Regions from separate parts of the Homo sapiens genome. Here region 2 is reported to be linked to region 1. The links are microRNA targets in miRTarBase. Many come from high-throughput screens and were not tested one by one. Region 1 holds a microRNA gene; the other region holds the end of a gene's coding sequence.
Evidence for each region. Region 1 holds the annotated microRNA hsa-miR-197-5p (CGGGUAGAGAGGGCAGUGGGAGG, at 2,452-2,474, opposite strand). A microRNA usually pairs through its seed, bases 2 to 8, with sites in the 3' UTR of a target mRNA and lowers its output. Matches are read on the target gene's strand: a 7mer-m8 pairs with bases 2 to 8, a 7mer-A1 pairs with bases 2 to 7 and ends in A, and an 8mer does both.

Region 2: the mRNA of LETM2 is a reported target of hsa-miR-197-5p. Seed matches in the 3' UTR shown: 7mer-A1 at 3,925-3,931.

What each region holds. Positions count from the first base shown.
Region 1 is chr1:109,595,995-109,601,374 of GRCh38, reverse strand. It overlaps MIR197 (microRNA 197), which reads right to left and starts at 2,482; the gene lies at 2,408-2,482. GNAI3 (G protein subunit alpha i3) reads right to left here. Exons shown (of 9, transcript NM_006496.4): 9 at 1,180-5,380.
Region 2 is chr8:38,407,638-38,413,017 of GRCh38, reverse strand. It overlaps LETM2 (leucine zipper and EF-hand containing transmembrane protein 2), which reads right to left. Exons shown (of 11, transcript NM_001286819.2): 11 at 3,491-4,806. The coding sequence ends at 4,744. FGFR1 (fibroblast growth factor receptor 1) reads left to right here. Exons shown (of 18, transcript NM_023110.3): 18 at 1-1,875. It overlaps LOC102723716 (a long non-coding RNA gene), which reads left to right and starts at 7. Exons shown (of 4, transcript NR_188043.1): 1 at 7-2,124. RefSeq lists an enhancer at 1-605 and a silencer at 3,218-3,267.

The DNA of each region.
Region 1 (5,380 bases):
AAAGACTTCTCATATTCAAGAGCTGTTCAGGAACTACTCTGAATATCATGCTCCAACCATTACTAATCTGTTCACTTTAACTCAACATACAGGAGTTCTGAATCTGTTTTGTATCATGGATCCTTCCGGCAATCTGATGAAACCATGTGCCTCTTTTCATCATCATATTTTTAAACACGTAAAATTAAATTCAGAGAAATACAAAGAAAACTAGCATATCAAATAGTCTCTCTGTAGACTCGCTGGAGCTCTGAAGCCCCAGGTTAAGAACCCTTACTATACAAGCTATGATCTTGTCTATTCAGGCCCCAAACATAATTTATCCCATTTATTCCATCTCCAAATAGGATAGCCCTACTTTCCCTCAAATAGTACCAGATTGTTGATTATTTTATTAACTTTTCCTTGGTCTTTCAATCTAGGTATAAATTGGTTATTGACCAAACTATAAGTCTAACTCAGGATCCTTGGTTATTAATGTTCACACAGAACCTGCCTTATAGTACTAGTACAGAAGCAGAGCCAGTGGGACAGGTCTTCTGACAGGTCTTAGGTCAGAACACAAGTCTCTAGCAGACTAAAACATGGTTGTATTTAGTCCTCTTCTTTTGGGATAGCTGGGGGATATCCCAACTTTTAACTGGTTTATCAACAAACTCACACAAGCCACCTTGTACAAACATTATGTAAAGTGTTCATCTTGGAGGATAGAGCAACATTCTATAGCTGTTTTTTTACTGAGTTTGGGATCTGCCTATATTCATCTTATGATGTTTTCAAGCTAAAACTCTTCTGGCAAGTCTACATGAAATGCAACAGGGGCCCTTGAGCACCCATTCACCTATTACCTTAGAACACAGTCAGAATAATTTTCTCAAACCCTTGGTCCAGAATGGGCTCTCCCATGATTAAAGGTAAGAGGACTTCACCTCGATGCTCTTGATAGGCTTCCAGAAAAGGCATTCACCCTTACCCTAGCTCAACTGTTTGTCAGGCCCAACGATTGTTCCCAAACCTTACATGTTAGAGCTGCAGAAAAAGTGCATTTGTACTTTTCCTGCACAATTAGCTTATTTTTATCTCATGGACATTTTGATTGTATTCATGAAAAGTTCTTATATAAAACAGCTATAAGAAAGATTAAAATAAAAATTAAGTCATTATCTTTCTTTTGCCTCATTTTAAATTTACACCGTACTGTTGAATTTTTATTTACTTTAAGCCATCAAGTTTTTTTTTTTTTTGTAACCAGATCAGAAACAAATATTTAACCCTATTTTCTGGCATGCAACCTTAATTCTTAAGACTGCTAAAGTTAGAACAAACTTAAAAATAGTCCAGCCCCATCACTAGCAATTTATAGATCAAAAACTGAAGCCCAGGAAGGAAGAGTATCTTCATCAAGATCACAACGCTAGGCAGTAGCAGAACTAGAACTCCAGAACAGGTCTTCTCAATCCAAAGCCTGTGATGATGTCCAGCTACCAACAGAGCACCATACACTATAAAATCAAAGCCAATTTCTTGTTCTTCTAAGCTCCTCCCATTCCCAACCAAATTCTTGGTCATTTTTTCATTATGCCGTCTCTAAATCGTGGACATTTAACAAAACCACCTCCAAGCTAAGACAAATAGATCTCAAAATAGAATATGAAAACAGCATAAAATCACAAAAATATAACTAAGTTTGCTTGTTTGTTGAAGGTAAAATTTCCTCTTCATATTCTTAGAGGGAGAGACCATAATGTACTTCCCTAGCATAGCATGATTAAAGAGACATTACTAACAGTAAATCAAATGTAAATTACGTTACATTTCACATAAATCTGATAGTTTTCCTTTTTTAGACAAAAATACAATATGATTGACACAAAAGGACAAATACTATGATTCCACTTATATGAGGTATCTAAAATAGTCAAATTCATAGAGACAAAGGAAAATGCTGGTTACCAGGGGCTGAAAGAAGGTGGGGCATGGGGAGTTACTGTTTAACAGGTACAGAGTTTCAGTTCAGGAAGATGAAAACAAGTTCTGGAAATGGATGGTGGTGATGGCTGTGCAACAGTGTGAATGTACTTAATGCCACTGAACTGTACACTTAAGATGGCAAATTTTGTTATATATGCTTTATCACAATTTTAAAAATAGAAAAAATATACTATAATTAGAAATTTGTATTTCTGTGGATAAAAGGAAGAATGGATAAAAGCGGCACAAAAGTTGTCTTAAAAGCAACATAAAAGACACATTAACTTGAAACAGTTCCTACTCTGGTAATAAAATCCACTCACATGTACCTCCAAATAGTCCAAAACAGAGTATTCCTTCCCATCCCCACGGTGAGACATAACAGCATTCAAAACCCACTCTATACTTGGAGATGTGCCGTAGACCAAAGTGTGCCGGCCATGCTGGGTGGAGAAGGTGGTGAAGGGTGAAGAGCTCTTACCTCCCACTGCCCTCTCTACCCGGCACAGCCCCCAGAGCACAGATTCCAGAAGGATTTCGGTGTTGGGCCAGGGACTGCAAGTGTGACAGAGCCTCTGGTGGTCCTGCTAGGTAAAAGCATGAAAACATTTCTGTGAGGTCAGAAGACACTGGAGACTGCAGAAGGGAACTTTTCTGTCTTTTTGCCATGAAAAAGCACTAGTATAAGCAGAAAATAGACAGCTGGATTTAAATGTAAAACAAAGCAAAGACCTTTTCACCCTGCTTCACGAATTTTAGAGCAATTTATAGTTCAACTTCATTTCAGGTCTTCAAAATGAATATGGGCAAAGTAATGCTGTAAAAGACCACCCACTACGTTGAATACCTTTGTTGGTGCTGCCTTAGGATTTTTTTTTTTCTGTGCAGTATAATCCTGAGTATCATAACATTTACAAAGCATTTTCAAATATGTTATTTCTATCTGATGAGAACCACAGAATATCACAGCAGGAAGGAATAATTTAGTCCATCTTTAGATAACAGATGAGTGATTTAAGACTGAAAGAATACACAAGATTCCATAGCTGGTTGGAAGCAGAGACAAGACCAGAACCCAGCATTCCAAACAACTCTCCAACCTCGTAAGATTCTGAGAGGTCTCAGGACCTTTATCCTACATGAGCAAGAATAAACAGAACAGGTGATTTCTTGTGTTTTGTTGTATCTACTGGAAATCTCTCTTACATATAAATAAGCATCTTAGTAAAAATGTCTGGATAACCTAAGGAGAATTTTGGGCGTAGGGAGAGGTAAAAGATAAGAGGAGACAGATAAACCAGGTTGTTCATAATTTAATATTCCTGCTGTCACAGATTTTATAGCTTAGTGAATGCTGGTACACTGAGATACTTCTATCCCAGCAGTGTATTAATATTTATTATTTGATTATTTCTGGTACCTTGTGATTCTCACTAGATTTCAGGAAAACACTAGCACTGGGCATACAAAGGCTTTTACATGTGACTCAATCATTCCCCTTATATACCCCCGTACCCATTTCAAAACGACTTTCATTCTAGTTTAGAGCTAGCTAGCTTTGCTTTCTCTACCAAGTGTAAATAAATATTCATGTTATTACATATACTGTTATCTGTCACAGGGTTTTATCTTTAATTTGGTGTATCTTTCAATTTTCACTGCATAAATAAATGCAGTAAAATAAATGAAATGAATGTTTGGACATCCTAGGTTTCTTGTTGTCTTAATTTTGTATAAAACTAAATACTCTGTATCCAAAGTGTAGGAATGTTATGTGACCCAACAGTTTTCAATAATTTTCTTGGTGGAAGGCACTTTAAGTCATGTACAAATGGTACTTCTTATTGGCAAAAAATAGATCACTCACTAGTGATTTTGAGCTTATTTGTGCACTGAAGTTGCTTATTTTCAATATTTGTGTTGACTTTAAAAAAAAACAAAAAAAAAACAGACTCACTCTGTCGCCCAGGCTGGAATTCAGTGGTGCGATCTCGGCTCACTGCAACCTCTGCCTCCCAGGTTCAAGCGATTCTCCTGCCTCAGCCTCCCGAGTAGCTAGGATTACAGGCATCCACCACCATGCCTGGCTAATTTTTGTATTTTTAGTAAAGACGGGGTTTCACCATGTTGGCCAAGCTGGTCTCAAACTCCTGACCTCAAGTGATCTGCTTACCTCGGCCTCCCAAAGTGCTGGGATTACAGACATGAGCCACTGTGCTCAGCCTGTGTTGATCTTTAATATAGATTGAGCATTTCAAATCTGAAAATCCAAAATCTAAAATGCTCCAAAATCAAAAGCTTTTTGGGTAACAACATAACACTCAAAGGAAGCACACACTGGGGCATTTTGGATTTCAGATTTTTGGATTTGGAATCCCGAACCAATAAGTATATAATGCAAATATTTCAAAACCTCACAAAAATCTGAACTCTCAAACACTTCTGGTCCCAAGAGATTTGGATAAGGGCTATTCAACCTGTATTAGGTCCTACTCAGTTGTCCCCAAATGTTGGCCCAGATTGGCTACATCAAAATCACCTAAGGAATGTATTAAAAACATGTATATTCCCATGACCTGGCTCAGACATTTTAATTTACTAGGGTTTAGCCAAAGAATCTGCTAAATCAAATTAACCATGTACCCCAGGTAACTACTGCTGTTTAACATTCCTTCTTACCTCTTATTCCTGAGAAGATTTGAGTCAGCCCAGGCCTAGGCCTGATATGGTATCAGAAAAAAAACTGCCCTGAGTGGGTGGAGTGGTTCACATCTGTAATCTCAGCACTTTGGGAGGCCAAGGCAGGCAAATCACTTGAGGTCAGGAGTTTGAGACCAGCCTGGCTAACATGGTGAAACCCTGTCTCTACTAGAAATACAAAAGTTAGCCAGATGTGGTGGCACATGCCTGTAATCACAGCTACTTGGGAGGCTGAGGCACAAGAATCGCTTGAACCTAAGAGGCAAAGGTTGCAGTGAGCAGAGATCGTGCCACTGTACTCCAGCCTGGGCAACAGAGCAAGACTGTCTCAAAAAAAGAAAAAAGAAAAACAAGAAAAAACTGCCCTATCCTGACATGTTCTGAAGTATGTTGTTCTCAGCAGAACTAACTCATAAATGTTGAGAAAACTGGGGGGAAAGGAGGGAGAGAAATGATCTTAAAAACTAAAAGATAAAGGCATAAAGACCTTGATCATCATTAAAGTTAGTTCTCCAGTGCCTGAAAAAGGCTTTCTTTTACTCCCTGATAGTTGTCAGCAAAATCAACTTTCAACTTGAGGTCTCTAGGAAGCCTGCCTTTTTCTCTTGTGCTTGTTGGGAGCAATACAACAAAATATGATGATCATAAAGCTATGTAAAGAGCTGAGGCTGATCCAGGTCAGATCCCTGATTTGCACTACGAAGCCTAA
Region 2 (5,380 bases), not on the chromosome of region 1:
CTGGGGGCTCTGTATATAGCTATGAAGAAAACACAAAGTGTATAAATCTGAGTATATATTTACATGTCTTTTTAAAAGGGTCGTTACCAGAGATTTACCCATCGGGTAAGATGCTCCTGGTGGCTGGGAGGCATCAGTTGCTATATATTAAAAACAAAAAAGAAAAAAAAGGAAAATGTTTTTAAAAAGGTCATATATTTTTTGCTACTTTTGCTGTTTTATTTTTTTAAATTATGTTCTAAACCTATTTTCAGTTTAGGTCCCTCAATAAAAATTGCTGCTGCTTCATTTATCTATGGGCTGTATGAAAAGGGTGGGAATGTCCACTGGAAAGAAGGGACACCCACGGGCCCTGGGGCTAGGTCTGTCCCGAGGGCACCGCATGCTCCCGGCGCAGGTTCCTTGTAACCTCTTCTTCCTAGGTCCTGCACCCAGACCTCACGACGCACCTCCTGCCTCTCCGCTGCTTTTGGAAAGTCAGAAAAAGAAGATGTCTGCTTCGAGGGCAGGAACCCCATCCATGCAGTAGAGGCGCTGGGCAGAGAGTCAAGGCCCAGCAGCCATCGACCATGGATGGTTTCCTCCAAGGAAACCGGTGGGGTTGGGCTGGGGAGGGGGCACCTACCTAGGAATAGCCACGGGGTAGAGCTACAGTGATTAAGAGGAAAGCAAGGGCGCGGTTGCTCACGCCTGTAATCCCAGCACTTTGGGACACCGAGGTGGGCAGATCACTTCAGGTCAGGAGTTTGAGACCAGCCTGGCCAACTTAGTGAAACCCCATCTCTACTAAAAATGCAAAAATTATCCAGGCATGGTGGCACACGCCTGTAATCCCAGCTCCACAGGAGGCTGAGGCAGAATCCCTTGAAGCTGGGAGGCGGAGGTTGCAGTGAGCCGAGATTGCGCCATTGCACTCCAGCCTGGGCAACAGAGAAAACAAAAAGGAAAACAAATGATGAAGGTCTGCAGAAACTGAAACCCAGACATGTGTCTGCCCCCTCTATGTGGGCATGGTTTTGCCAGTGCTTCTAAGTGCAGGAGAACATGTCACCTGAGGCTAGTTTTGCATTCAGGTCCCTGGCTTCGTTTCTTGTTGGTATGCCTCCCCAGATCGTCCTTCCTGTATCCATGTGACCAGACTGTATTTGTTGGGACTGTCGCAGATCTTGGCTTCTTACAGTTCTTCCTGTCCAAACTCCATCCTGTCCCTCAGGAACGGGGGGAAAATTCTCCGAATGTTTTTGGTTTTTTGGCTGCTTGGAATTTACTTCTGCCACCTGCTGGTCATCACTGTCCTCACTAAGTGGATTCTGGCTCCCCCGTACCTCATGGCTCAAACTACCACTCCTCAGTCGCTATATTAAAGCTTATATTTTGCTGGATTACTGCTAAATACAAAAGAAAGTTCAATATGTTTTCATTTCTGTAGGGAAAATGGGATTGCTGCTTTAAATTTCTGAGCTAGGGATTTTTTGGCAGCTGCAGTGTTGGCGACTATTGTAAAATTCTCTTTGTTTCTCTCTGTAAATAGCACCTGCTAACATTACAATTTGTATTTATGTTTAAAGAAGGCATCATTTGGTGAACAGAACTAGGAAATGAATTTTTAGCTCTTAAAAGCATTTGCTTTGAGACCGCACAGGAGTGTCTTTCCTTGTAAAACAGTGATGATAATTTCTGCCTTGGCCCTACCTTGAAGCAATGTTGTGTGAAGGGATGAAGAATCTAAAAGTCTTCATAAGTCCTTGGGAGAGGTGCTAGAAAAATATAAGGCACTATCATAATTACAGTGATGTCCTTGCTGTTACTACTCAAATCACCCACAAATTTCCCCAAAGACTGCGCTAGCTGTCAAATAAAAGACAGTGAAATTGACCTGAGAGAAAATGAAATGGCCGTTTTACTTAGAGGACCAAATTGGGTCTCCTGAGGAAAGGAATCCAGTTTATCTAATGAAGATGTTGTGCCATGAAGGCACTGAGTCTGTCTGGTTTCCTGAGGGTTAAAAGATTAGGGCTGGGATCACCACAGCATTAATCAATACTGCCTTTCCGTCTCTTCTAATTGCCATAGGCTGGAGATCATCGGTCCCTTGGCCCTGCTAATGTAATGTATTGATCTCAGGTAAGTAAGATTGAGCATCAAATGAGGCAAGAAATCTGTCTCATTGTTAATGAGGTTGCTGTGCTTATTCGCCACCACTGGGTGGAGCCAGCGAGCTGAAGTTTCAGTTGGCATTAGGTGAAGCACCAGTCCGCTCTCAAGTCACATTGGTCCAACTACTACCTGCTAGTGTGTGCTGGTGGTGAGTGGGAAATCTTTAGCCTAGATTTGGCATTACAGAAAAACTGGGCAGCACTGATGTGGCTCGTTTTGGGATGATTTTAGAATTAGACATGACACAGGTGCAAGGCCCTAAGTGTCAGTGGCCACCACCTCTCTATTGTAGCAGAATTGTGTGTAAGACCCAGGACACATCTAGCATCACTGTAGTTGGGTTTTTAGAGAATGCCTAAAGTGGCCAGGCATGGTGGCGCATGTCTGTAATCCCAGCACTTTGGGAGGCTGAGGCAGGCAGATCACCTGAGGTCGGGAGTTCAAGACCAGCCTGGCCAACATGGTGAAACCCCATCTCTACAAAAATACAAAAATTAGCCAGGCGTGGTGGTGCATGCCTTTAATCCCAGCTACTCCAGAGACTGCGGCAGGAGAATCGCTTGAACCCAGGAGGCAGACGTTGCAGTGACAAGATCGTGCCACTGCACTCCAGCCTGGGTGACAGCAAGACTGTCTCAAAAGAAAAAAAAAAAAAAAAAAAAAAATCTAAAGTCATACCCAATGAGATCATTAGTGGCAGGTAGAGCCAAGGCATCTGCATCTATAGAGAAGGGAGCAGAGAGGAGAAAGCTCTGAAACAGCTGGCACAGCCTTCCATTCCCTCCACTGAGGAGAGCCAGGGAAGAAGGTGGTCAGTAAGAACCCAACTGCTAAGACTTGGTCTGGGCGGGTTCCTTCTAGGTGGACCGTCAACAGTATTCAGGACCATTTCCACCATACTGCCCTACATGCAGGTCTTCGCGTGCAGAAGGGATCTATTTCATAAACATGCTAACTAGAGGTGTAACTTTCATTACCCCGGGAGGCTCAAAGAGTTGGTGGTTAACGATTTACCAGAACACCACTAGCTGGGGCTAGATGTAAGGATCACTGAACCCAACAGCCAAGCACCCTAAATGATGAGAACAACAAAACATCCTTGACTTCTCTGAGCTGCTAGCAGAAGAGTGGGAGGAGAGGTCTATCAAGTGGCCCGGGTCCCTTGACCAGGTCACTGCTCATTCCCACCCTGCTCGGAGGGAAAGCCAGAAGGAACTGTAGGACAGCCCAGCAGTACCTATGACTCATTCAGCTAAAACAGAATTGAGCAAGTTTAGCTAATCCCTTTCCCACATTTAACACCTGAAATGTGGACTAATTAAAATACCCGTCATTTTTGAAATGGGAAAGTGTATTGTGAATCACCTCGATAGGCAGGATCCATGATTGCTGTATGTGCACAGTAGGGATTCATCATTCCCAAAGAACTGGGCTTCATTAGTGGGACATGGTGGGGCTTCTCTGATGGAGCACAAATTTAGAAAGCATTGTAGAATGCATATTCTTGCTGTGAAGTGCTGGTGACATTCCTCATTTAGGTGATCCCAGACAGGACAGTGGAGTTTTACTTGTTTTAACTGACTGCTGTCTAACCACAGCAAGTAAAGAAATCTAATTTTATCACCTACAGGCTGAAATACCTTTGGCCTTCTAACCACTCCCCAGGGGAAGAAAGCCCTTGGTCAGCTGCATGGCAGTCTATCTATTATTTCATATTATTAATACTGAAAACACCAAGCATAAATATCCTAATGTAATACTTGTTGCTGGGTAGCACAGGGATTATATCAGACTTTCACAATCCCTATGACTAATAGTCTTATTTGTGAAAGACAAACTGGCCAGAAACACACACACCCAACACAAACATGGTTAAGGCTTAAACCCTTAATTATGCTTCCTAGCAAAATGGTGGCTAATGAAAGCCATATGTGCTAGAAGAGTGGCTGCCTCGCAGATTGCGGCTGCCTCACAGATTGCTGCAGCCTCTGCAGGCCCAAGATGGAGGTGTCGGAAGCAGCCAAATCTTTCTGATTGCCAGTCTGTTTCTCCAGGAAGCTTCATTATATCCAGAAAGATCTTACTGGGGAGTATATCCATCCCATCTCATAAGGTACTTTGTTTCCAGGGTGCTGATCCTACTGGTGGATCATTCAGAAAGTTAATCAGGTGCTCCTAAAATGGTTTTTGGAACTTCCAAGTTCTTACTCAGAATTCCAAGCCATAGGAGACAGGTATCTAAGGTGCCAAGCTGATTCCATTGTGCAAAAAATTTCCTCTCTGAAGGGACGTACACATGAAACTAAAAAAACAACATGATGGGGGGTGGGCTTTATACAAAGTTGAGTGGGGTGACAATGGTACAGAGGAAATGGGACTTTGCAATTATATTTTTCTAAGTGGTCTGAACTTGGTCTCACTACCCACATCACCTGGAATGGTTACCAGGCCTCAAAGGACTGCCCCACGGGCTAAACAGCTGATCCGCTCTCTGAAGCCAGACAGTCTTATCTGGGAGGTCCTTTACAGATGCCACTGTTGAGGGCCGGAAGCTGAAGAGAGTGAGCTCCATCCTCAAGTAGTCCTTTATGCTCCTTTTGAACTAGCCTTGCTGTTCTGGGCCGTCATTTGTGATTTGGCCTGGAGTGTCTAGGCGTAAAAAACAAGGACTGTAGGCATTAGTCACAGACGTGTAAGTTCTTAAGGAGTGAATGCTATTTTTGTTTTCTTAATCAAAATAGTGACCACAAAGTCAAATCTGAGATTATAATTTACCTTGGTAATAAAAGATAAAGGAGATTTACAAAAAACAAGGTATGTGTGTGCCTTGGGATGCTTTTCTGGGCTTACCCCATCTGTGTCTTCATAGATTCTCTGTCCTGCCAGCCATGTCTTTGGTCCACAGGAGCCACTTCCCACTTCAACTCTCCCACAACCTCCCCACTGTTTACTCTCTTCATGCCCTGTGCTCTTGCCCCAAATCCCTTCACCCAATTGGGAAAACTGGATGATAGATAAGTAGTTTCTTATTTACATGCATTTCTCTGGAAATTAAAGTTGCTTTCCAGCTAGTATTTCCTCACGTCGGAAGCATGTGTAAAATAACACATGGAAACTATTTCCACCTGGCACATAAGAAAAAAAGGGTCTGCCTATATTGTAACTGACTTCTACACTTTGCATGTTTTAGTCTGACCCACAATTTTTTTTTTTGGATAGTTGA